Regions from separate parts of the Homo sapiens genome. Here all the other regions are linked to region 3. Evidence: fine-mapped expression QTL. A gene starts in region 3. Each other region holds a variant in brackets. All regions are shown on one strand. Distances are between the middles of the regions.

Evidence for each region. PIP is the estimated chance that this variant, and not a neighbour inherited with it, causes the effect. A credible set is the group of variants that fine-mapping cannot tell apart.
Region 1: its variant is the best candidate, but not a certain one, in a credible set for the expression of OGFRL1 in blood mononuclear cells (TOPMed, PIP 0.52).
Region 2: its variant is the best candidate, but not a certain one, in a credible set for the expression of OGFRL1 in cerebellum (GTEx, PIP 0.55).

The regions. Positions count from the first base shown.
Region 1 is chr6:71,230,205-71,238,488 of GRCh38, forward strand. LOC124901338 (a long non-coding RNA gene) reads right to left here and starts at 4,568. Exons shown (of 3, transcript XR_007059632.1): 1 at 4,339-4,568; 2 at 3,309-3,453. The variant G/A (reference allele first, on the strand shown) is at 4,741.
Region 2 is chr6:71,212,226-71,220,509 of GRCh38, forward strand. No RefSeq gene overlaps it. Among named protein-coding and RNA genes, the nearest start is that of OGFRL1, 72 kb to the right of the region's middle. The variant G/A (reference allele first, on the strand shown) is at 4,390.
Region 3 is chr6:71,284,064-71,292,347 of GRCh38, forward strand. OGFRL1 (opioid growth factor receptor like 1) reads left to right here and starts at 4,748. Exons shown (of 7, transcript NM_024576.5): 1 at 4,748-5,107. The coding sequence starts at 4,874. It overlaps LOC124901339 (a long non-coding RNA gene), which reads right to left. Exons shown (of 6, transcript XR_007059640.1): 4 at 797-877. RefSeq lists a silencer at 4,401-5,460.

The sequences.
Region 1 (8,284 bases), 54 kb before region 3:
AGGTGGACGCCACTATGCCCAGCTAACTCTTTTGTGGGTTTTTTTTTTTTTTTAATTTTTAGCAGAGACGAGGTCTCACTATGTTGCCCGGGCTGGTCTCCAGCCCCTGATACCAAGTGATCCTTCCCCCTCAGCTTCCCAAAGTGCTGAGATTACAGGTATGAGCCACTGCACCTGATATAGCTCCATGCATTTTGTTGCCCCTGAAGATCTTCCAGTGGGACAAAATGTGAAGATAGAAGACGGTGAAACTGATGATCCTGACCCTGTGTAGGCCTAGGCTAATGGGTATGTGTATGCCTTCGCTTTTAACAAAAACACTTAAAAAATTTAAAAAGCTTATAGCATGAAGATATAAAGAAAGAAATGTTTTTGTGCTACTGTACTATATTATACTAACTATACTATTTGTTCTATTTTGTACTAATATTTTTGTACAATGCATTTGTGTTTTAAGCTAGATGTTATTTCAAAAGACTCAACAGGCTGGGCTCGGTGGCTCACGCCTGTAATCCCAACACTTTGGGAGGCCAAGGCGGGTGGATCACAAGGTCAGGAGATAGAGACCATCCTGGCTAACACGGTGAAACCCCGTCTCTACTAAAAAAAAAAAATTAGCCGGGCCTGGTGGCGGGAGCCTGTAGTCCCAGCTACTCAGGGGACTGAGGCAGGAGAATGGCGTGAACCTGGGAGGCGGAGCTTGCAGTGAGCCGAGATGGCGCCACTGCACTCCAGCCTGGGCGACAGAGCAAGACTCCGACTCAAAAAAAAAAAAAAAAAAAGAGTCAACAACTTAAAAGTTTACAAAGTAAAAAATATTATTAGTTTATAAAGTAAAAAAGTTACAGTAAACTAAGATTAATTTATTACTGAAGAAAAAAGTTTTAAATAAATTTACTGGAGCCTAATTCTACGGTGTTTATGAAGTCTATGGTAGTGTGCAGTAATATCCTAGGCCTTCACATTGACTCACCACTCACTCATTGGCTCACCTGGAGCAACCCTCAGTCCTGCAAGCTCCATTCATACTAAGTGTCCTATACAAGAGTACCATTAAAAAACAAACAAACAGACAAACAAAAAAAAACCTTTTATACTGCATTTTTACTATCCCCTTTCTAAGTTTCGATAGGTTTAGATATGCAAATATTTACCATTATGTTACAATTGCCTACAGTATTTGGTTCATTAGCATGCTGTACAGGTTTGTAGCTTAGGAGCTAGGCTATATGATATGGCCTAGGTGTGTATTAGGTTATACCATCAGGTTTGTGTAAGTACACTATTCCCACAGTAAAGAGATCAATCTAAGGATGCATTTCTCAGAATGTATCCCTGTCATTAAGCAATGCATGACTATATTCTCTCACATTTAAGAATATCTATTTGTGGTATTTATACTTGAGTGGAATCTTAGTGGAATACAATATTTTTGGATCACATTTCTTTTCCTTTAGAACTTGGTAGACATTGCTTTATCATCCTGTAACCCAGAATGTTACTCCAGAGAAGATTGAGTCCAGTCTGCTTTGCTCCCAAATATAAGAGGCTTATTATTTGTCTCTGGATGGCTAAATAATTTTTTCTTATTCTTAAATTCAGTAACAACAGAATATGACTTAGGAAAAATAGGGTTGAATATGTTTGTCTTGGAATATGATATGCACTTTTGAGTTGCAGAGTGTCTTATTCTTGCATTACAGGATTATTTTTCTATTTTCTATTGGAATACTTTTTCTGAGTCATTTACTGGTTTTTCAATTCAGAGATACCTATTATCTTTATATAATGGCATATTTGTCACTTCTCTCTAGCTATTATCTTCTCTCTATTTCTACTAATCTGTTCATCTTTTTCCGTTGATTTTACTGTGCTTATCTCAAGCCTTTTCTTTGTAGAGCAATTTATTTTTCAGCCATGTCCATTAAATTTCTTTCTGCATGTAATTTGTTTATAAGTTCTGTAATGGTGTTATTTTAGTTTCAATTTGTTTCCTTATATTGTCAATTTCCATTTTTACATCATTCTGTATTGTTATCATCTTACATTTGAGCTTGTATTTTATTCATTTCATGTACTTAATAAGATTTTCTATAGCATGAATATTTCTCTGTGTTCTTTGTTGCTATAGAGTTCCTTTCATTCTTATTTTTTGTTCTGCTTACCTAGTTCTCATGTCATCCTTTTTTCATCTTGTTCATATTTTCAGTGAGCTCTGCATCTGAACTCTGTTTTTTGTTCTGGTATAGATTGAGTGAATTCCCCTTAGGTCCCTTCCCATATTAACTGAATGTGAGGGTATTTCTCTACAAGATGTAGCTTGAGAGCTTGTAATTGATTTATACTCACTTCTAAGTAGCCTGAGGGTTTAGGTGTGTATGTCTTGGAAGATAGGCAGGAGTAGGGAGAGAGCTAAGCTAGGGCTAGGTACAACCAAGTATTTCAAATATTCTATATTCTTCTAGCTTTTTCTATTTGACCTGTTTTTTCTTCTTTTTCTTTTTTATTTTTGACCTTTTTTCTTATTGAAGTGTTTAACGTATCCTACTATAGTTCTGGATTTGTCAGTTTTTGTAATCCTATCAGTTTTCTCTGCCTAGTGCGATGTTATGTTTAAGTGCATACAAGTTAAAGATTATTTTATTGGCTTGGGGATTGTTCTGTATTATTTTATAATGCACCTGAGATGGTTTGCTGTGTCCTCATCCAAATCTCACCTTGGATTGTAGTTCCCATAATCCCCACCTGTTGTGGGAGGGACCTGGTGGGAGGTAATTGAATCATGGGGCGGTTTCCCCCATGCTGCTGTTCTCATGATAGTGAGTTCTCAAGAGATCTGATGGTTTTATAAGGGGTTTTCCCTCTTTGCTGGGCGCTTCCTTCTGCTGCCGCCATGTGAAGAAGGATGTTTTTGCTTCCCCTCCCACCATAATTGTAAGTTTCCTGAGGCTTCCCCAGCTATGCAAAACTATGAGTCAATTAAACTTCTTTTCTTTATAAATTACCCAATCTTGGGTATGTCTTTATTAGTAGCATGAGAATGGACTAACACGTCATCTTACTATAAATAATAAAATAGGTTTAATAAAAGAGGTTTAATAAAAACCTCTTAGTTTTTCAAAACTTTATGTTCAAAATTTTCTTTTGGTTTGGTGTTAGGTGTGCCTTTTATTAACCAGGATACAGCAGGATTTATGTTATTATTATCCCATCTCTGCCTTTTAATAGGTGAATTTTATCCACATTGACTCTGATACATTACACTTTTGGGCTTATTTGTACCATTTCCTTTTGTGCTATCTACTTACCTTTCACTTTCTTTGCTTTTTTGCTGTGTTCTGTTGGATTGACAAAGGATTCTGCATTTTTCTTTTTCTTCCTTTTTTTCAACTCCTCTACTTTCTCCTTCTTTTCCTCCAAATCATTCTATTCTTCCTCCTTCTTTTGATTCCTCTGGAGGTTTGAAAAATATCAAGATTATTTCTATTTCTATATTGGTAACCCTAAGATTATGCCTTATTTTTCTATTTCATGTATAGCAAATACATACAGATGAGCACACTTATATGCAGAAATGTTGATTTTAATATATTTTCACAAAGTAAATACATCTGTGTGACTATAACTCAGATTAAGACATAGAACATTGCCAATACCCTGAATCGCCCTCAGTATCTCCCTTCTCTTCTTAAGGTTAACCATATCTGTCTTCTTTACCATAGATTAGCTTTGTCTGTTTTGAACTTTTCATAAATGGGATATGACATGAACTCTGCATCTGGCTGCTATTGCTCATTCTTATGTTATTAGACTCATCTATGTTATTGATTATATTGATGATTAATTTACTTTTATTATTATGAAGTATCCCATTGAACGAATGCACCACAATTTATTTATCCATTCTACTCTTGCTGGACATTTGGATTGTTTCTAGTGTTTGGGGATTACAAATAATGCTGTTTTAAACATTCTCTAATTTCATTTCATTCTTTGTACCTGCCTTTCATTGACATTTCATTTACAACTCTGTTGGGTATATACCTAGGAGTGAAATACTGGCATTACTGGGTTGTAGGCTATGCTTATGTTTAGTTTTAGTAGTTACTGCCAAATAGTTTTCTGAAGAGGTTGTACCAATTTATATTCCCATGTGTAGTGCATAAAAGCTCCAGTTGCTGCATATCCTCAATATATGGTAATACCTGTTTCTCTAGATTTTACCTATTCTGATGAGTGTGTAGCTGCATGCACACAATTTTTAATTCATTCATTACTAATGATTTTGAGCACTTTATATGGCTATCACCCATTTATGTATTGTATTTCATGTATTACCTGTTCAATATCCAAGTTTATTCCAATTTTTTAATGGATTGTCTGTCTTTTATATGGCTTCACAGAAACATTTAATATGTTTTGGATAATAATCTTTTGTCAGGTAAAAATATTGAAAGTATCTTTTCCAGTTGGTGGTCTTCTCTTCCACTATTTGTGTTAGTCTATTCTCATGCTGCTGTGAAGAAATACATGAGACTGGGCAATTTACAAAGAAAAGAGGTTTAATTGATTCACAGTTCTGCATGGCTGGGGAGGACTCAGGAAACTTACAATCATGGCAGAAGGCATCTCTTCACAGGGTGACAGGAGAGAGAATGAGTGCAAGCAGGGGAAATGCCAGACACTTATAAAACCATCAGATCTCACGAGAACTCTCACTATCACAAGAACAGCATGGAG[G/A]AAACCACCCCCATGATCCAATGACTCCCTACCGGGTCCCTCCCATGATACATGGAGATTATGGGATCTCCAATTAAAGATGAGATTTGGGTGGGGACACAGCCAAACCATATGACTATTTTACTGGGGTTTTTGATGAACAGAGGTTCTTAATTTTAATTATGTCCCTTTAATCACTATTTTTCTTTAAAAAAATTTGCCCATCTTAAGGTCATAAAGATATTCTCTCTTATCTTCTTGATGTTTAATTGTTACTTTTCAGGTAGGCATATACCTCCAACCCTGAATTGATTTTTGTGTGTCATGTGAGGTAGGATGTCAAAATGTGTTTTTTCCTCATATAGATAACCAGTTGACCCAAAATCATTATTAAAAATACCATTCTTTTTTCATTTGCATTATGCTTTATCATGAAACAAATTGTCACAAATGTTTCTATTCTTTTCCATATTTCTATTTGTCTATTTTTATGCTAATGCAAAACTGTCTTAAATATCATCACTTTGCAATACATCTTGATAACCCTTAGAGGGATTTTGTCCTTCTTCAAAATTGTCTTCTCTGGTCTTGGTCCTTTACATTTCCATATATAGATATATTCAATTGTTAATTTCCAATAAAAATATTTTTAAGCTTTTAACATACAAAGCTGTGAATTATATATTAATTATAACTATAATTTTAAAAATATCTGAAATTATCTAGTATTTTTATCCTACTCAGAAACCCAAGAACCTAAACAGGAATATATTATAGATTGAGAATCTATTTTCCAGCACCTTGTTTGTGTTGCTAAGTTATTTGGATATAATATTCTAAATTTCCAGTTTCCCATCATTATATTGAATTTATTTCTCTATTGTTTCATGGCATCTATGGTTGCTAATGAGAAGCCCACTTGATTTATTGTTTAATTACCATTTCTTGTTGTAACCTGTTTTTCTCCTTGTAGCTGGTAAAAACATGTCCAAATTCTTGATGTATTCCAGTTTTACTTTGGTAAGTCTGGGTATGAATATATTTTTGTAGATCCTTCTTGGTTTTTATAGTTCATTTTCAATTTGAGGACATATTTTTCTTCAATTTTGGAAAACTCACAGCTCTTTTCTCTCCAAATATTACTTTCTTGTGACTTTTTCCTTCCTTAAAGAAAAATAGGCAGTCCTATTTGTCTTCAGACTATCCTATATAGTTTTAGGTGACCATACAACTATTGCCTAATAAATTATATTTATATAATTATGTTTATATAACCAGAGCCCCACCTAGCCTCTGTTTTCAAACCTGGCTCCAGTCTGCTAACTTCCATGGAGCACCTTCACTTCTCCTTCCCTGATTCTCAGGGGAGATGCATTTGGGAGTTAAAAGAAGTGCCACTAATAATTATATCAGGACAACAGATGTAAATTGGAACTCTCCCAAGCATACTACCCTGTGTGATCTCTCTGCTTAGCATTCTTCCATATTTTATTCTCTATGCTGTCTTCTGGGTAAATCCCTCAGTAATATTTTTCAGTTTATTGTTTTTCTTTTGTTGCCTCTGTTCCAAAGTTTACCCTATCTTTGAATTTTTTATTGCAATGAATAGATTTTTAACTCCCAAGATGTCTAATCATTCTGCTTTTTAATTTATTTGGCTTGTTTCATATCTGTCTGCTTTTCACATTTTATGTTTTTTTAAAAAAAGTGCATAGTTTTTTCCATTTTTCCCCTTAAGCATTCAAAGCATATTTATTCTTAAGTTTTGGCTAGATCAGTTTAATAAAATTTCACCTGGAATGAAATTATGTTCCAATTGTTGATTTTTGGCAGGATTACTTTCACAGCATTAGAATTCTCCCGCTTTGAAATTCTGTTTTGCAGCATCATGTTGAATGAAATTGCTCCCCTTCTTTCTCTTTCTTCAAATTTCTCTATCTAGCAGTTTTGCATTTCCTTCTCCCAAATTCCTGAACCCTACCTCCAAACCTAGTGCTGTATGACATTGCAGAACACCTGCCCTTGGTCTCAGCAGGCATATGATATCAGGCCCCAGGCCAGGTGCATTTAGCACCCTTCCTCAAGTGCAATGTGTGTTAGTTCTCTTGTTTCTGAAGTTCTCTGCAAAGCCATGGCCCCAGGGAATGGTTGGCTGCAGATTTTTAACCTCCTTTTACCAGAAGGAGCCTCATCTAGCCTCTGTTTTCAAATCTGGCTCCAGTATGCTAATTTCCATGGAACACCTTCAATTCTCCTTCCCTGGTTCTCAGCTGTCACTGCCTACTTCAGGACAAGAGCCCAGCATGGCTGTGGCCTCAGCTATGCTCAGTTCTGCATTTCTTTTCTATTTCTGGTGCACAGGAATGCTTAATAGGCTTTGAACTCAGACATGTGTTTCGGGTGTTTTCTTTTATATTTTTATATGCTTTTTGCTGTGTTGTGTTAATACATTAAAGCATGAACTAACTGCTCTAATTTGACCAGAGTGCATAAAATGAACAAGTAAATTGTATTTATCATAAACTAAAACAGGTGATTGTAAAATATCCCAATTTACTAAATTTGGAAGCCTTTTAGAGACAGATTTTCCTTGTACATGTCTCTAAATTACTTTCATAAATGTGCAATAGTGGTAGTACCAATGGAAAGAACAGAACCTTTTGTCCATAGGATCATTTAAAATTTGTTTGTGTGCTACTCGGGAGGCTGAGGCAGGAGAATTGCTTGAACCCGGGAGGCGGAGGTTGCAGTGAGCTGAGAACACGCCACTGCACTCCAGCCTGGGTGACAGAGAGAGACTCCATCTCAAAAAAAAAAGAATAAAAAATAAATAAATTTTTTTGTGTATGAATCTGCAATTATTTCTATTTTCTAAATTACATTATTTGGAAATCTAGGAGCTGAAACACTTTTTGGTGCTATAGGACATTATGACTTGGCTACTTTGAAATTAGACATATTTTACCCAGCTAAAAGAGACACAATATTAAATTTTCCAAGTAAAAATAATTACATAATCTGAAAGGAAAATAATTGAAGAGAGAGAGAGAAAGGAAGAAAACAAAAGGAAGGAAGGAAAGAAAGAAGAAAGGAAGGAAGGAAGGGAAAGAAAGAAAAAGAAAAGAAGGAAGTAAAAATGAAGGAAAGACAGGCATATTCATTCCAGTGCTTTGAATAGTGTATGGCCCTTAGAAAATATTTGTGGAGAAAAATGAATGGATAAATACCTGAGCCTCACTCCATTTCTGGTTAGCACCCTTGTTGTAGAAGGAATGGGACAGGGAGCATACTATGGATGTATCCAGGGTGAGGAAAGCATCAGGACTCACAGATAGGGTAATGGATCAGGCAAGTGTGAAAGTGAAGGATAGAGTTAGCATAATTGTCAGGGTGTTTGTTATTTTATAACCCGATTGTAAAAACAGGGAGTTTTAAATTTGGACATTTTATGTGGTTCTAAATTTTCTGAGCTCAGCTATGAATAAATGTCACCCTTCCCATTTGGAACCTATTACTGAGCTATACTGACCACTCAGAGATGGGAAGAGACAGGCCAGTAGTGTGA
Region 2 (8,284 bases), 72 kb before region 3:
AATTCAAGAAAAAAATCCTATGTGAAAAAATGGGTAAATATGAGGGTAAATATAAATCAATTATAAAAAAGTAATATTTATTACGTGGTAAAATGTGGAAAAATTATTGTATAATGATAACTTTTAAAATGGAAGAGTAGTTATGGGTTGAATTGTGACCCTCTCCAAAAATTGGAGTCCTAACCCCTGTTGTACCTCAGAATGACACTTTATTTGGAGATAGAGTCTTTACTGAGGTAATCAATTTAAAATGAAGATCGTTAGGGTGGATCCTAATTTAATATCACGGATGCTCTTACAAAATAGGGGGAATTGTTTTTTGTTGTTGTTGTTTCGAGTCAAGGTCTCCCTATGTCCCCCACCTGGAGTACAGTGGTGCGATCTCTGCTCACTGCAACCTCCACTTCCCTGGCTCAAGTGATTCTCTCACCTCAGCCTCCTGAGTAGCTGGGACTACAGGTGTGAGCCACCATCCCTGGCTATTTTTTGCATTTTTTTGTAGGGGTTCTCCGTATGTTGCCCAGGCTGGTCTTGAACTCCAGGCCTCAAACGATTTGCCCTCCTCGGCCTCCCAAAGTGATATAGGGATTACAGGTGTGAGCCACCATACCCAGCCAAATGGGGGGAATTTGGACCCAAGGAGAAGATACACACATGTAGGGAGGACATCATGTGACAATGAAGGCAGAGACACAGGCGATGATTCTACAAGCCAAAGAATGCCAAAGACTGCCAGCAATCCAGAAGCTAGGGAGAGGCCTGGATCAGATACTTTCTTACAACTCTCAGAATGAACCAACCCTGCTGACCTTGGTTTTGGACTCCTAACCTTCAGAACTGTGAATCAACCTATTTCTATTGTTTAGGCCACCCTGCTTATATTACTTTGTTATGGCAGCCCTAGCAAGCTAATAGAGGATTGTTCATGGTTAAACTTTTAATATCTTTCTATTATTTACAAAGATAAGACTATATGTTTTGGGTAAACCAAATATGTTAAAATTTTCTGGGAAGTCAGTTAAAAAATGGAAATAAAACATATATATTCCACCAAAGTAGAGAATAAATGAAATAAAAAGATGAACCCCCATCAGAAATATGGCAGATTACACCTCTGGGGCAGGAAAAGTACAGGATAATCCAGGAACATCTTCATACCAGAAAGTAAGGAAGCTCTCAGAAACTCTACTCAGGGGCTCATAAAGTCATTTGATTAAGCTGCTCTGGCCAAAGATGGGAAATGTCATGCCTCAATAAGGATAACAACTGCAATGCATTAAAACATATCAGATAAATATAAATCCAGAAGTTTGATTTGATACTAATTATTTATGATTTATAGAAATAAATAAACTCATTGGCTACAGCCTTTGCAGGGTCTAGAAACTATCTCAATATTTTGAAAATAAATTTAAAAAGAAAGAAGAATAAGTTCTTTATTTCCTAAAAGTGTTCCTGAGGCTTCAGACTATGAAAATAATTATTGTGAGAGTTTCTCTTTGTATACCTATTCCAGGAAATAAATGTACAAGAAGTTGTCCAAATTGACCTATCATCACTTTTAAAAACTCCTGATGAATGCCTGGGTCTAGGTAATGATCACCAATGGCCCAGCTTCAGCAATTACCAATATATGACCAATTATTCTTTATCTAGATCTTTACTTATTTCCTCCTAAACAATCCCATCTCTACCACCACCAGGTCACAGATTATTTTGAAATGGTCTTCTTTTAGGACAACCTCAATGCCATCATTACATTTTTAAAAATTAAAAGTGAATCTTCAATAAAAGATATTCAATAAATGTTCCCATTTCCCTGACAACTTAATTCCTTTAACTTAAAAAAAATTCAAATAAGGGTTCTATTTCACAGTTACATTTCAAAATGGCTAAAGGAGAAGAATTTGAATGTTCCTAGCATAAAGAAAAGATAAATATTTAAGGTGACAGATATCCCAATTGCCCTGATTTGATTATATGAATATGTCAAATTATGACATGTAAGCAGAAAATTGTATAACTGTTATGTATAAATAAAAAAAACAAAAATAGATAAAAGAATAGTCAAAGGGGCCCCATGTAATTCAAGCCCAATTATTTTATTTTTTAAAAGACTCAATCAATCATAAATAGTCTGAAAAGATGAAAGAAGGTAAAATTTCAGGGAAATGAAAAATAAGATAGAAATATTCAGATTTATCGATAGTAAAAACCCAGTTTTAAAATTTATGTGGAAGAAAAATAAGCCCAAGATTATAAAGGCAATTTGAAAACAAAGGGAGGAGAAAGAAAAAGGAAGTAATCTACCAATACAGAAACCATAAAAAAGAGAGAAATCAGATGTTATATATGTCCTGGTAGAAGTGCAAAATACCACATACAAGATAGTCTTGCCAAAAAAAAATTGAGCCTTAATTTGATTGAGGTTCTTTTAGTTTATAAAACAAAAATAATTAAGGAAGTATGGAATTGGTATAGGGACAGACAAAACAGTGGAACAGGATAAATGAAGAAAGGTACTCATATATGTTAATATATGATGAAGATGCCATTGTGGATAAAGTAATGATGAATTATTCAAAAAAAATGAGCTATTTAGGAAATTATCAACTTTTGAAAAATAAAATCAGATTTCAGATCCCTATTCCATATCACATACAAAAATAAACTTCAAATGGATTAAAAATATATAATCTAACATATGCGATATTATGTTATAATGTAGTTAACATAATGTAACATAACATAATACCGATATATCTATATATCTATTTATATATATAAAATGAATTCTGGGTAGAAAAGGATTTCTTTCTTTCTTTTTTTTTTTTTTTTTTTGAGATGGAGTTTCATTCTTGTTGCCCAGGCTGGAGTACAATGGCATGATTTTGGCTCACTGCAACCTCCACCTGCTGGGTTCAAGCGATTCTCCTGCCTCAGCCTCCCGAGTAGCTGGGATTACAGGCACCCACCACCACATCCAGCTAATTTTTTGTATTTTTAGTAGAGACAGGTTTCACTATGTTGGCCAGTCTGTGAACTCCTGACCTCAGGTGATCCGCCCACCTCGGCCTCCCAAAGGCCTGGGTTTACAGGTGTGAGGCACCGCGCCTGGCCCAGAAAAGGATTTCTTAGATAAGACTTAAAAGACACAAACCCAAAAGAAGAAAGATTAATTAGATTTGACATTTGTATCTTTTATCAAAGTAAAAAGGGATTATATTTACAACACATATTAATGATAACTGAATCAATAAAGTTGATCTCAATCAATTTAAAAAGGTGAATTGCATATAAGTAAAATTGTCAAAGGAGATGAACCAGAAACTCACAGAAGGCAAATCTAAATGGCCAGTAAACATAAAATGAAAACTTCAAAAATAATTAGGGAAATTCAAAATAAAATAATAAGATACCATTCACATATATCCAATCAGGGAAAATAGAGGAGGGCTGCAATTCCAAGTACTGGTGAGAAAGCTGAGCAATACTAATCAACAAATCTGCTTCCAAGTGTATACCTAGAACAGAAACTCTATTACATATACAACAGACATGTACAAGAACATGTATAGCATCATTGTTTGTAAGAACAAACTATTGGAAATAAACACCCATCATAAGCAAAACTGATAAAGAAAAATTGTGTATAATCACAACAGACTACTATGTAGCAATGAAAATTAATACAAGGGTCAACATGGACGAATCTCATAATGTTAAGGAAAGAAACAAAATCAAGGAAAAAATATACATCATGATAATAGTTATATCAAGTTTAAATATTTCCACAAATATATTAACTAAATTGCTAAATACAAAATTTAGCCAAAAATTATTAAATATAAAATTCACAGTAGTAGTTATTGGTTGGGGAGAAGTGGGCGTGTTCATAACAGGCCTTAAGTAGATTGGTAATATTTTGTTTCTTAATATGGGTGGTGGGTATATGGGTATCTATTATACTATAAACTTTTATATGTATTAAGTATTCTATGATTAATAAAAATATTAAGAAGCATGGGTAGAAAAACATGAATATAGTCACTGAGTTTCTTAAAAGTGCTGGATACTATGCTAGACACTGGAAAGGAATATAATGCTGAATGAGAAAGACATAGTTCTTAGCTTTACAGACCTTGGAATCTATCTGGGAAAACAGACATTGAACAAAGAGTTGCCACCATTCCAGATGTCTTGCTATTTCCCAAACACATGATTTTTTAACGAATTATTCTTTTTTCTATACCCTGCCTGTACTTCTCTTGACCCTTCTTCTGCTGTGCAGGTCTCTGTGACTGTGCAATTTTCCCTGATGACCCCTGCAGGATTGATCTTGCCTTCTTTCTGATATCGCTGTGCCTTTCCTTTTAATCTCTAGATGCA[G/A]TAATCAGTTTTCCTTTCTGTCTCTGCCAACTATCTGTGAGCTCCTTGAAAATAAGGACCACTTACTGTCTATCCACCATCATGGCACATGGTAGGTAACATATATATGTTTAATAGCTGTGTTGACATGTAAAAAGTGAAGTACTAAGGCACTTATATGGATAACACAAGTTTCAAATAAAAGCACAATACAGAAGTCCTTTGCCTCAAAAAGTCAGATACTGTTGAACAAAAACTTATTTTAACATAGCAAATATAAATACAATTGTAGTCACCACTAAAGGTGATTTTTTACTTGCAACAAGAAATAACTTACTTTAGCCCATTCTCTTTTTGGAGTTTTCTTTGTCAAAATATTGACTTTCCCTTGTGTATAGAACTCCATTTATATGCCATCAAAATAAGTAGGTTAATGGGGAATTCAGGAAATTTTGATTAAAACATTATCATTCAAGGACTTTTTTTTCTACCTTTGATTTATGCAGAATTTTGTTTATTATTGGCCACTTTGCTTGGAAAAAATACTTTTTTATATAAGTATGTCCATAAGAAAAACACTAATTTTTTTTAGTTAGCATTTTTCTCCTCACATTGATACATTGTGAGGCTTCTCTGACTTGCTTTATATGTATAAGGATTGATAACTTCTTATAGCAATAATTTTTTTTACTGTAAATTTGGTTACTACTTCAGATAATGTGCTACCTTAGTGTAGCATAACTTTTTTCCCAAACTACTTCCAAGGATTAAGTCTTACTAAATACAATTTTCAGAAAAATCTTTTAATAATTATCCTGGGGCATCTGTGATTAAAAAGACCCCCATATGTTATTATTAAATTCACTTGTATGCAGAAGCAACTTGAAATTGAGATGACAGTTTTGCTATTACATGAATTTGGCCAGAACATACTATAATAACTATATTCTCTGCTGCCCTGTCACTAAAAATTTTTTCAAGATTTTCTACACCAAAGAATTTCTAATCACATACACATTTAAGAAAGTACTACATTAGAACAAATACCTAATGCATGTTTTTTACAATCATAAAAACACAGATGAATTTAGTTTTCCATTATCCTGCCAGTGACTGGAACCTGGCTTTTGCCCTGAGACTTGATCTCACAAAGACATATCCTCTTCCTATTTCCAGGACTTCTGTGGCTTTTATTAGACCACCCCATCAACACAGAGAGAAGACAGCCATTTGCTACATATAATTCAAAAGAATTTCTTCAAGACTTTTTTGAGGTAATATCAGAAAGTTTCCTTGATCTCTGCATTAAAAGAAAATTGGATCTTAAAGTTAACTCTACAGAAATGCACCCTTTGGAGTATCACAAATAAAACAGGTTTTCTGCCTGGGGACAGTTGTCTATTGCCCTAGCAGGTTGCACTTACTATACTATGGAAAATGAAACACTACTACATTTATCTGTCTGAAAAATTGCCCCAAGAAGGATGTTTACTATCTCCACTATTATTTCATGTTGAATTGGGAGTGTTGGACATTGTATTCAGATAAGACAAAACAAACAGGGGCACAAGAATGGGGAAAAATAAAGGAATAAAACTATGTCTATTTGCTACTGATGAGATAATATTCTTGGGAAACCTGAGATAGTCAGTAATAAAATGAACATATACATAAATTTGGTAAGGATACAATTTTATTATATGAAAATCAATAATCTCATATATACAAACAATAACCAGTTAGAAGACATAATGGAAGAAAAACCCCATTTACAACAACAAAAATATAAAATAGGAATAAACTTAAAAAGAAATGTGAAAAATCTACAAGGGAAACTTTAAATACACCTGAAAAGGGACAAAAGCAGATTTTAATTAAAAGAAATTCTTGTGTGTGTGTGTTTGTGTGTGTGTGTGTATGTGTGTGTGTGTTTTGAGATGATGTTTCACTCTGTCACCCAGGATGGAGGACAGTGGCAAGATCATGGCTCACTGCAGCCTCAAACTCCTGGGCTCAAACAGTCCTCTTGCCTGAGCCGCCGTTGGGACTACAGGCATGTGTGACCACAGGCACGTGCAACCCTGCCTGGCTAATTTTTTGAATTTTTTTTGAGAGACAGGGTCTCACTTTGTTGCCCAGGCTGGTCTTGAACTCCTGTGCTCAGGCAATCCTCCTACCTTCTCCTAAAGTCCTGGAGATTACAGGCATGAGCCAGTGTTTCCGGCTGAAATTCTTTATTCTTACATAGAATGACTCAACATAAAAAAGTTAATTCTCCCCAAGTGAATATATAAATTAAATGTGATCTAACAAAAATCCAACAAGTTTTATTTCTAGAGCTGTATAAGTTGATTCTAAGGTTCATATTGTAAAATAAACAAAAAAGTAGCTAGGAAAATTTATTCTGAATAACGTTTTACCAATTACCAAAGTTATACAAACTTCTGTACTTAAAATAGAGGGTACAGGTGCATACAGAGACACATTAGTAAAAAAAAAAGTATTATAGCAATTTCAGAAAGAGAAACAAGCACATATAAAAATGTAATATATGATAAAGATGGTGTCTCAAATCACTGAGCAAACACAGGCTTTTTTTGTTTTTATTTTACTTTAAGTTCTGGGATACATGTGCAGAACGTGCAGGTTTGCTACACAGGTAGACATGTGCCATAGCGGTTTGCTGCACCTATCAACCCATCATCTAGGTTTTAAGCCCTGCATGCATTAGGTATTTGTTCTAATGCTCTCCCTCCCCTTGCCCCCAACCCCCCAACAGGCCCTGGCGTGTGATGTTCCCCTCCCTGTGTCCATGTGTTCTCATTGTTCAAAAACACAGGCTTTTTAATAAATTATGTTAGAACAACTGGAAAATCACCCTTACTTTACATCATAGACGAGAGCAAACTCTAAATGGGGCAGACATCTAATGTCAAATATGAAACAATATGCTATGGTTTGAATATGTCACTTCCAAAACTCAGGTGTTGCCAATGTGATAGCATTAAGTGAGGCCTTTAAGAGAATATTAGACCATGAGGGCATTTCTTTTAACAATGGGATTAAGGCTTTATAAAAGAGGCTTTGCACAGCATTTGGCTTACTTGCCCTTTCATTTCTTCCACCATGTGAGGATACAGCACATCTCCCCTTTGGAGGATGCACCAACACAGTGCCATCATGGAAGGAGAGATAGGGCCCCTTATCAGACACCAAGACTGCTGGGACCTTGATCTTGGACTCTCAGCCTCCAGAACTGTAAGAAATAAACTTTTTGTTCTTTATAAATTACCCAGTCTCAGGTATTTTGTTCTAGCAGCACACACTGACTAAGATACCACACAAGGACTGGAAGAGAACTGGTGAAGTTTTTTAGTAAGCTATGGATAAGTTATGACTCAAGTTCCAGATACAATAAAAGACTGATACACTCAAGTACATTAACAAAAAAACAACAACCTCTGAATGACTTAAAACACCATAAACAAAGTCAAATGACAAATGGTAGATGGGGACAAAATATTGGCTATGTTTATCTGTCTCAAAAATTTCCCTAAAAAGGATGTGCACCATCTCCACTATCATTCCATGTTGCATTTATCATAGATAAACACAGGACTTGTAGCTCTAACATACAAAAATTTCTTAAATAGATTTTTCAAAATCTATTTAAGAAATGAGCAAAGGACACAACCAGTTCACAGAAAAAAGGCCCTCAAATATATAACAAGTTTTATAACTTCTTTCATAATAAGATAAATACAAATGGAAACTTCAATGAGATACCATTTCTCGCCTATTAGAATTAAAAAATTCAAAAGCTCGATAACACATTTTGTATACAGGGCTATGAAAAACAGGTTCCCAAATATTGTGGATGAGAACGCAAAATGCTACAGTCTCTATGCAGGGAAGT
Region 3 (8,284 bases):
TCAATTCATTTGTTACCAATATTTGATAGTAAAATATTTGACCCTTTATATCTATAATAAAAAATGCAGGCTGGGCGCGGTGGCTCACACCTGTAATCCCAGCACTTTGGGAGGCCGAACTGTGTGGATCACCTGAGGTCAGGGTTTCAAGACCAGCCTGGCCAACATGGCAAAACCCCGTCTCTGCTAAAAATACAAAAATTAGCCAGGCATGGTGGCGCATGCCTGTAGTCTCAGATACTTGGGAGGCTGAGGCAGGAGAATCACTTGAACCCAGGAGGCGGAGGTTGCAGTGAGCTGAGATTGAGCCATTGCACTCCAGCCTGGGTGACAGAGCGAGACTCCATCTCAAAAGAAAAAAAAATGCAGAAATCTCTTTGCTACTACAAGTTCAGTTTAGTTGAAATTAGACGTATGTGTGTTTATTTCTGTATCCCATTTAAAACAACCTTGAAAGCTTTGTTTTTGGTATACAGGAATTGCTTTAATTGCTGGTCATTTCTTTGAGAAGAATAAGAAGAAAGAATATTAAGGAAGAGGTAATGGACAGCAGAGATATTTTTGCAACAAGCCTTAGAAAGATAAAAGAAACATGCAGAAAAACACTGAATTGCACAATTGCATTGTCCAAAAAGAAAGAAAGATTTTTGTAAGAGGGGCTATGGTGATGTTAGTGGTTGGCAAGGATACAGGAGAAGATATCTCAGAATCATACAAAAAGTATAGAATATTTGCAGGGAGGAAGGAGGAAAAAATATTTTGTTTTCATAAATTATAACCTATTATAAACTCCTACCTTAAGGAAGGAAGATCCTGGGAAATTTCCAGCAAGTCTTGTCTGGTCAGGAACTCTATGTGAGGTTGTACATGCTGTGTCCTGCATGAAGAGTTCAGTTAAGGTGGTGGGAGGGAACTCCAGTTCAGGCCCTGCTCACTAAGCCCTGGAGCAAAGGTGTCTTATTCTCAAGAACACAAAGTTCTCATGGGTGCTAGCAGAGGCCCTTGGCTACAGTCAATGGAAAATAATATTACAGCATGTTACTACTAATTTCAGATGTTTCTTTAGAGAGCCATCTTTATTATTTTTAATTTTTAAAATAATACTATTTTTTTTTCCTCCAAAGATTTCAGGTTCCTGTGAGGTACTGAGGAGTTAACTCCTGAGGTTGGGGAAAATGGCCCTTGATCTGCCCTTTCCTTTTATTTGAAAGACTCTCAAATTATGTAATAATAAACCTTTGTTAATGTCCCTAAAACAGGATTGACTATAAAAGACAATTCAAGATATGCCAGATACATTTGGGTTTCATCCAAAAAAGTTTAGTTCCTGAAGCACCAGTTTCTTTGTCCTTTGTAAAATGGCCTCACCCTTAAAGGATTTCATAACGAAGTTGAAAACAGAGTTATATTGAAGCATGGCTATAGCATCTGCTTAATTTAGAGCAGATTCTATTTACAGGGAGTCAGAAACTATATTATAGTCCATTGTGATAATAGTTTCTCCTTGTTCCATACATGTGTATATTACTGTTGAATTATATGTTCTTTAAAGACATATTGAATGAATCATCATTACAGCTAACATATATTGATAAATTAATAGATGCCTGGCACTGAGCTAAGTGATGATTTTTATATGAAGCAAAGGTACCCTTCTTTACTGTTGATGCAGGAATGTTAAATACTCTGCAAGGCAGGGATAATGAAAAAAGTTTAGGTATTCGAGAAGGATAATTCCTGTGTATAGAAGCTTGGGATGACAGAACTTCAGCATTAACTTGTAAAAATAACACATAGATTGGGCACAATGTGGTCGTGCTTATTGCTCTAAACTTAAAATTGATTAAATATTATATAAGGTTGGTGTTACGCTTCATGTAAAATTATGTTCTTTAGAAAATATATTGCAAAATCTGGCATATCATCTATGGTCCTATAAAAATTGACACATTTTTCAAAAGGTGGTGTAAAAGGGAAGGATTTAATTGCAGTAGTTACTTAAATGTTTATATGCACAAACACAGATACTTCTCACCATTCCATCATCTACTGATGTATAACAAACTACTACAAAATTTAGTGACCTAAAGCAACAGCCATTTTATTGCATTTCACTCTTCTGTGGGTCAGAAATCTGAGCAGGGCTTTGCTGGGTAGTCCCTTTATTCCAAGTAGGGTCGATGGAGGTCACTGAAAGGTATTCAGATGGTGGATGGGTTGGTCTGGAGGATTCAATAAAAAAAAAAAAACAAAAACGTGGAATCCAGCAGGGGATACTGGAAGGTAGGCCTCAGCTGGTACCATGACCAGAGGATGACCAGAGGCCACACACAAGTGGCCTTTCTAGGAGTATGGCAGTCTCAAGCTAGCTGAACTTTTTACATGGCAGCATGGGGCTAACAGAGAGAATATTCCAAGAGACCCAGTGGAAAATGCAAGGTTCCTTATGGCTTAACTTAGAAAATCCTGGACTATCACTTCTTTCATATTCTATAGTTAAGCAAGTCACTGAGGCCAGCTCCTTCAAGAGTAAGGAATAAGACTACTTCTCAATGGGAAGAGAGCAAAGAACATGTGGCCAACTTTAATCTACATACACCTAAACCAACAGATGGAGCGCCTGGGACACAACAACTATCCTTAGACTTTCCACATCAACAATCTCGGAACACTTAAGGCTGGATGGACAATATCTACTTCTGCAATGTGTTCCGGTCTTCTACCAACGGAAAATCGAATTCCCAGCTTTGAGCAGTTGGATTCCTGTGGTATGTGGCTGCCCCACATCTTCTTCTGCTAAGCCATTATAATCAAAAAGTATTTTTTTTGGCGGGGGGTGGGGGCAATGGAGTCTCACTCTGTCGCCCAGGCTGGAGTGCAGTGGCCTGATCTCAGCTCACTGCAACCTCCACCTCCCGCGTTCAAGTGATTCTCGTGCCTCAGCCTCCCAAGTAGCTGGGATTACAGGCGCCCGCCACCAAGCCAGGCTAATTTTTATATTTTTTTGTGGAGATGAGGTTTCGTCATGTTGGCCAGGCTGGTCTTGAACATCTGACCTCAGGTGATCTGCCCGCCTCGGCCTCCCAAAGTTCTGGGATTACAGGCGTGAGCCACCGCACCCGGCCCCAAAAGTCTTTTTGTGCACCCCGTGTCTATTTCTTATTAGTTTCAGAGCTTTTCCCAGTCATAGGATCACAGAAGGTCAGAGCTGGAAGGGCTCCCAGAGATCTGGTTTCATTTTACAAATGAGGAAGTTTAGGTTCATGTGACCTACTTAAAGTCAGAAACTGATTAGTGACAGAGCTACAGCCTAGATGTCTTGTTGCAGTGCATGAAGAGCTTAGGTAATCCTGATTTATCCATGGAATAGGCAGCTGGTTTACCTGATTCTTCCCTTAGAAACAGTCCATCTAACATGATTTGGCTTCCTACTTCATCATGAAACATTTGAAAAGAAACTATTCATTCCAAGTTCAACAGTTTAATCTTCAAATATCTAGCTCATCTTTCTTAGTCCATATTTAACAAATGTTTACTGAGCATCCACCAAGTTGACAGCACTGTAAATACAGACACACTTTCAGACGGGGGCTGCCTGCAAAGAGGCTTCCCTTCTAGTTAGAAAGCCAGAAGACACATTTTACAACAGTCACTTTTCTCTGGGTCACATATTTGATAATACTACCTTATCTTTACGTACTTCTATAGGCTTATGCCTGTAATCCCAGCTATTGGGAGGCTGAGGCAGGAGAATTGCTTGAAACCAGGAGGCGGAGGTTGCAGTGAGCCGAGATCGCGCCTCTGCACTGCAGCCTGGGCAACAGAGGGAGACTCTGTCTCAAAAAGAAAGAAAAGAAAGAACAGAACAACAGAACAGAACAGAACAGAACAGAACAGAACAGAACAGAACAGAACAGAACAGAACAGAAAAAAGAAAGAACTTCCCTAACACAGTTCTCCCTCCTCCTTTCATTTGCAGAACAGACCACAGGGCCGAGGCTTCTTCCATTAGAAACAGCCCATCTGTTCTACTGATTCTGAGATTTTTGCCTACACGGAGCACCAATTTGTAGTGGGTGTAAGGTTACCCGCAAATCAATGTGATGGTCCAGTTGTTACTGTTCCTTTTGTTTCACGAGCGATTGCTCATTAGATGAGGTGACTGATAGCTCTGACTTTTTCTAGACCACAAGGACTCTAGGTGGCTGCCCTAAGTACAGTTGTGGCAGCTGGGATTTCCTGTTTATATGGTGCCCGGCACCATCAGCTTTTGTCCTCTGCTGCAGCTAAAGTGTCTTCCTCCTGGACCAGGGAGAGGGGGAGGGGGTGTGGACAGGACCCGCCTGCTGACGGTGACACCTCTTCGACACCACGTCCACGCCAGTCCTCAGCTCCAGGAGCTGGGCGGGATCCCTCATCCCGCTCAGCTGGGAGATGCCCCGGGAGGGCGTCCCCCGGCTCCGGGCGGCGAGGGTAGTAGCCGACCCCAATCCACTCCGGGGGCCGCCGGGGGCCGCGTGAAGGCAGGTGTTCCGGGGAGAAACGTGGAAGGGAGGCGCGGCCTGGGGCCGGTGGCGCTCGGCTGGGGGCCGCAGTTGGCTCCCCTGGGGGCTCTGGGCGGCGGCAGCTCCCGCCTGTGGGGAGGAGAAGGAGCCGGATGGGCGGGTTCAGGCGCGCGCGGCGGCGGTCCCGGGGCCGCCGGCTCCTCCCCGCGAGGGTGCCTGTCCGCCGCTCGCCGCGCTGAGGCAGTGCGGGGCGGGCGCGCCTAGGCTGCCGCCCAGCGCCCTCGCCGCGGCCATGCCCGGGCCCTAGAGCGCCTGCCGCAGCTTGCGCCCCGCAGCCCCGCAGCCCCGCGCCCGCCGCCGCCTCTTCAATGGGCAACCTGCTCGGCGGGGTCAGCTTCCGCGAGCCCACCACCGTGGAGGACTGCGACTCCACCTGGCAGACCGACTCGGAGCCCGAGCCCGAAGAACCAGGGCCGGGCGGCGGCAGCGAGGGCCCGGGGCAGGAGTCCGAGCAGCCCGCGCAGCCCCCGGAGCAAGCCGGCGGGCGGCCCGGCGCCAGCCCCGCGCCGGACGAGGACGCCGAGGCGGCGGGCGCCGAGCAGGTACGCGGCCCAGCGGTGGCCTCGGGTCGGGCTGGGGCGCCCCGACACCCCAGAGGGGCAAGTGCCAAGCCGCCCTCGCGCTCGGAGGCCAGGGGCGCCAGGTGGCTGCTCGCCGCTGCGACCCGACCCCTCCGCGCCGCGGCTGACCTGTCTCCCGGTGGAGCCCGGGGGCCTGCAGGAGCCCAAAGCGCCGGACCCTCCCACTGCCGGCCTGGGGCCTGGCCGAGGGCACGGCGAGGAAGTCCCTCAAGGCAGAACCCAACTTGAATGGGTGTTTTCTTTGCCTCTGCAGAGCAGCTGGATTATGCGAAGGTGGGGTGGGAGGAACCTGTCTAAAAATAGAGGATTTTGACAACCCCTCTAGTGTGTGTTATTGGTAAAAAAAAAAAAAAAAAAAAAAAAAAAAAAAATTACTCAGAATAAGGTGGGGCTACAAGTGCAAGCAGCCAGCGCTCTCCCCTACAGTGGGGTCTAAGCCGTCAGAAGTGTAGGCCCTCATCTGAAGTTCATACGTCACTGTTCTGCCCAACTCAGGCCTTTCAACCTAGGATTCAGGGCATTCTTCACGAATCTTATTTCACCAGAAGACTTGTTGATCCAACTGTGTTTGAACTGTTTGACTAATACAGCTTGGAGGAGAGGTTAGTCAAGAGATAAGCCCCTTAACCTCTGATGGACTGAAAATAATCAGGAACTTTAAAAAGGAGGAAATATGTAGCCGACCCCCTGAAGAAGTGTGCATCCTGGAGGTGGTTCAGGTTTGCCGCTCCACATTAGGCCCTTCTCTTTATCAGCTAGGGGCGATGGAGATTGGGAAAATGGAGCCCAAAGTCCAATGTGACCACAGGGTTTTGGGGGAATCATAACCTAAATATTACAGCTAACACCGCCTCAGCCATCTTGATGATCAATTCTATTTAGGTAAGGAGGAAATCATAAAGTCTTAGTGCAGGCTCTGTGTTAAACGTGTTATTTAAATGAACTACAATTTTGGGGTGGGTGTTTGCTGTGTGGTCTCCATTTTAGAGAAAACTGAGGCTTAGAGAGAAAGGAAAACTTGCCCAAGATCACTGAGGGAGAGGATGATGCAAACCCAAGTCTATCTATCACTGATATCAGCGCCTTGGACCTGTGGAATTCTGAATTTCCATCTGCCCCTGTGTCTGGTTTGCCGCTGTTGTTTTGCATTGCTAATTCAATCTTATTAAATTATTAGATGCTGCATTCTCATGTTTTTCCCTTACGTTTGTCTCCCAATTAAGTAACCTCCTACAGAAATTTGGAATATCAAAAAACACCAGCTAAGATTCAATCCAACTAACCAGGTCCATCTATATAAAACATTTTAATAATGTTCAGTCAGTTAACTGCAACCCCAGTAACTAGTAGACTACACCAGCCCTCCCTATTCCCTTTTAATGATTAATTTTTCTTGTTAGTATCACCATCTGACTTCCCCAAAAAATCTGCTTTTCAATTTTGCCTTTTGACTGCCAACCCTATTTGTTGTCTATTCCTCAGAGTCAATCCACTTGCAGGTAATACTGGAGCTACTTTTAAAGCGTATCCCAGACTGACTCCTTCACACCACTTCCATTGCATCATCCTAGTCCCTCTGAATACTGAACAAATGATGGTGACATTAACCAAGACAGGGAAGTCTAGGGAGAATGCAGCTATGGAGGTTAAATCAACGATTCTCTTGAGTTTGATATCCTATTACACATCCAAGTAGAGTTGTTGGGTAGTTAATCATTTGTTGGGTAGTTAAATTACATCTATGAATGGAGACAGTCCAGGACTAGAGTCCTCAGCATCTGAGATCAATGGTATTTAAAGGCATGGGAAGATAAGGGGTTATCAAGGAGTGATGACGACTGAGGACCTTAGGCACCCCTCCATTTAGAGGGTATGAAGAGGAGGAGGAGCCAAAAAAGGAGGCTGACAAGGGGAGCCCAATGAGACAGAAAGTAAACTAAGAAAGTTATAGTAGCCTGTAAGCCAAATACTGACAGTGTTTCAGGAAGGAGGGATGCTTTAATTGGCCCAGTTCTGTTGGGAGGTCACCTGAGGTGAACATTAAGAAATGGTTTGGCAAGATGGAGACTTATTGGTGAAGTTCACAAGAACTATTTTGTTGGAGTGCTGAGGACAAAAGCCTGATTGAGGTGGGTCAGGGGAAAATGGGGAAAGAAAAGAAGGAAACAAAGTATGGGCAATTCTTTGGTGGTGATTTGCTATAAAAAAGGAGTAGATATATGGATCTGTAATTGATGGTAGGCCTGGGTCAAGGAATGTTTTGTATGTTTATTTTAAGATTAAAGATACTACAGCATGTTTGTTTGAGATCGAGAAGAGAGGGAAATTTTGATGATCCAGGAAAGAGGAACAATATTGAACAACAGAATCCTTGTCTGAGCAGGTGAAAGGGGTCTGGGTAGAGAGTCCAAAGGGAATAGGGGTTGGAAGAGCAGGAGCAGATGCTGGCAGGACACAGACATTCTTATGATAATCCTGAGAAATAGGTAGGGCTTGAGTCATTATCTTTATTTCAGAGATGATAAAACTAAGATTCAGCTAAATGATTTGCTTAAGGCCTCACAAATACAAGTAAGCAGCGTTCAGATTGCTAGTCTTCTGACTCCAAGTCTTGGGCTACTGATACTACACCAAGGTTTCCATATATCCTTCATTTTTTAGTGTGACTGAGATTGATTCAGACCTGGACTTGGGACCCAGAGCCTGGGATTCTTGTTCTTGCACTGTCACTGGACTCTGGGTGGTGTGCAACTTCTCTAAGCCCCTGATATCTTGTTTCTAAGATGGAAACACTTATTAACTGTCAATCAGGTGTGTTTTAAGAATCAAATGAAATAATGCCTTTTGACTGTCAACCCTGTTTGTTGTCTATTCGCTATATATGTAAGTGCTTTGTAAATGGAGAGTGCCTTCTATACAAATGTAGGATGATGATTCATATGGTTGTATCTCAGGCTAAATAGATTCAGAAACTTGCTAGGCAGAGCTATTTTGAAACGTGTGGCAAGGACCAGAATTCAAGCTTTTCCTTGCTTATGTAACATGACAGCGTAACTAATGTTAAGCATCAGAAGATTTGATGTTGAAGTAACTCGGTACTTGTAGTAATAGTGAGAATCACACCACTTCAAAAATGTG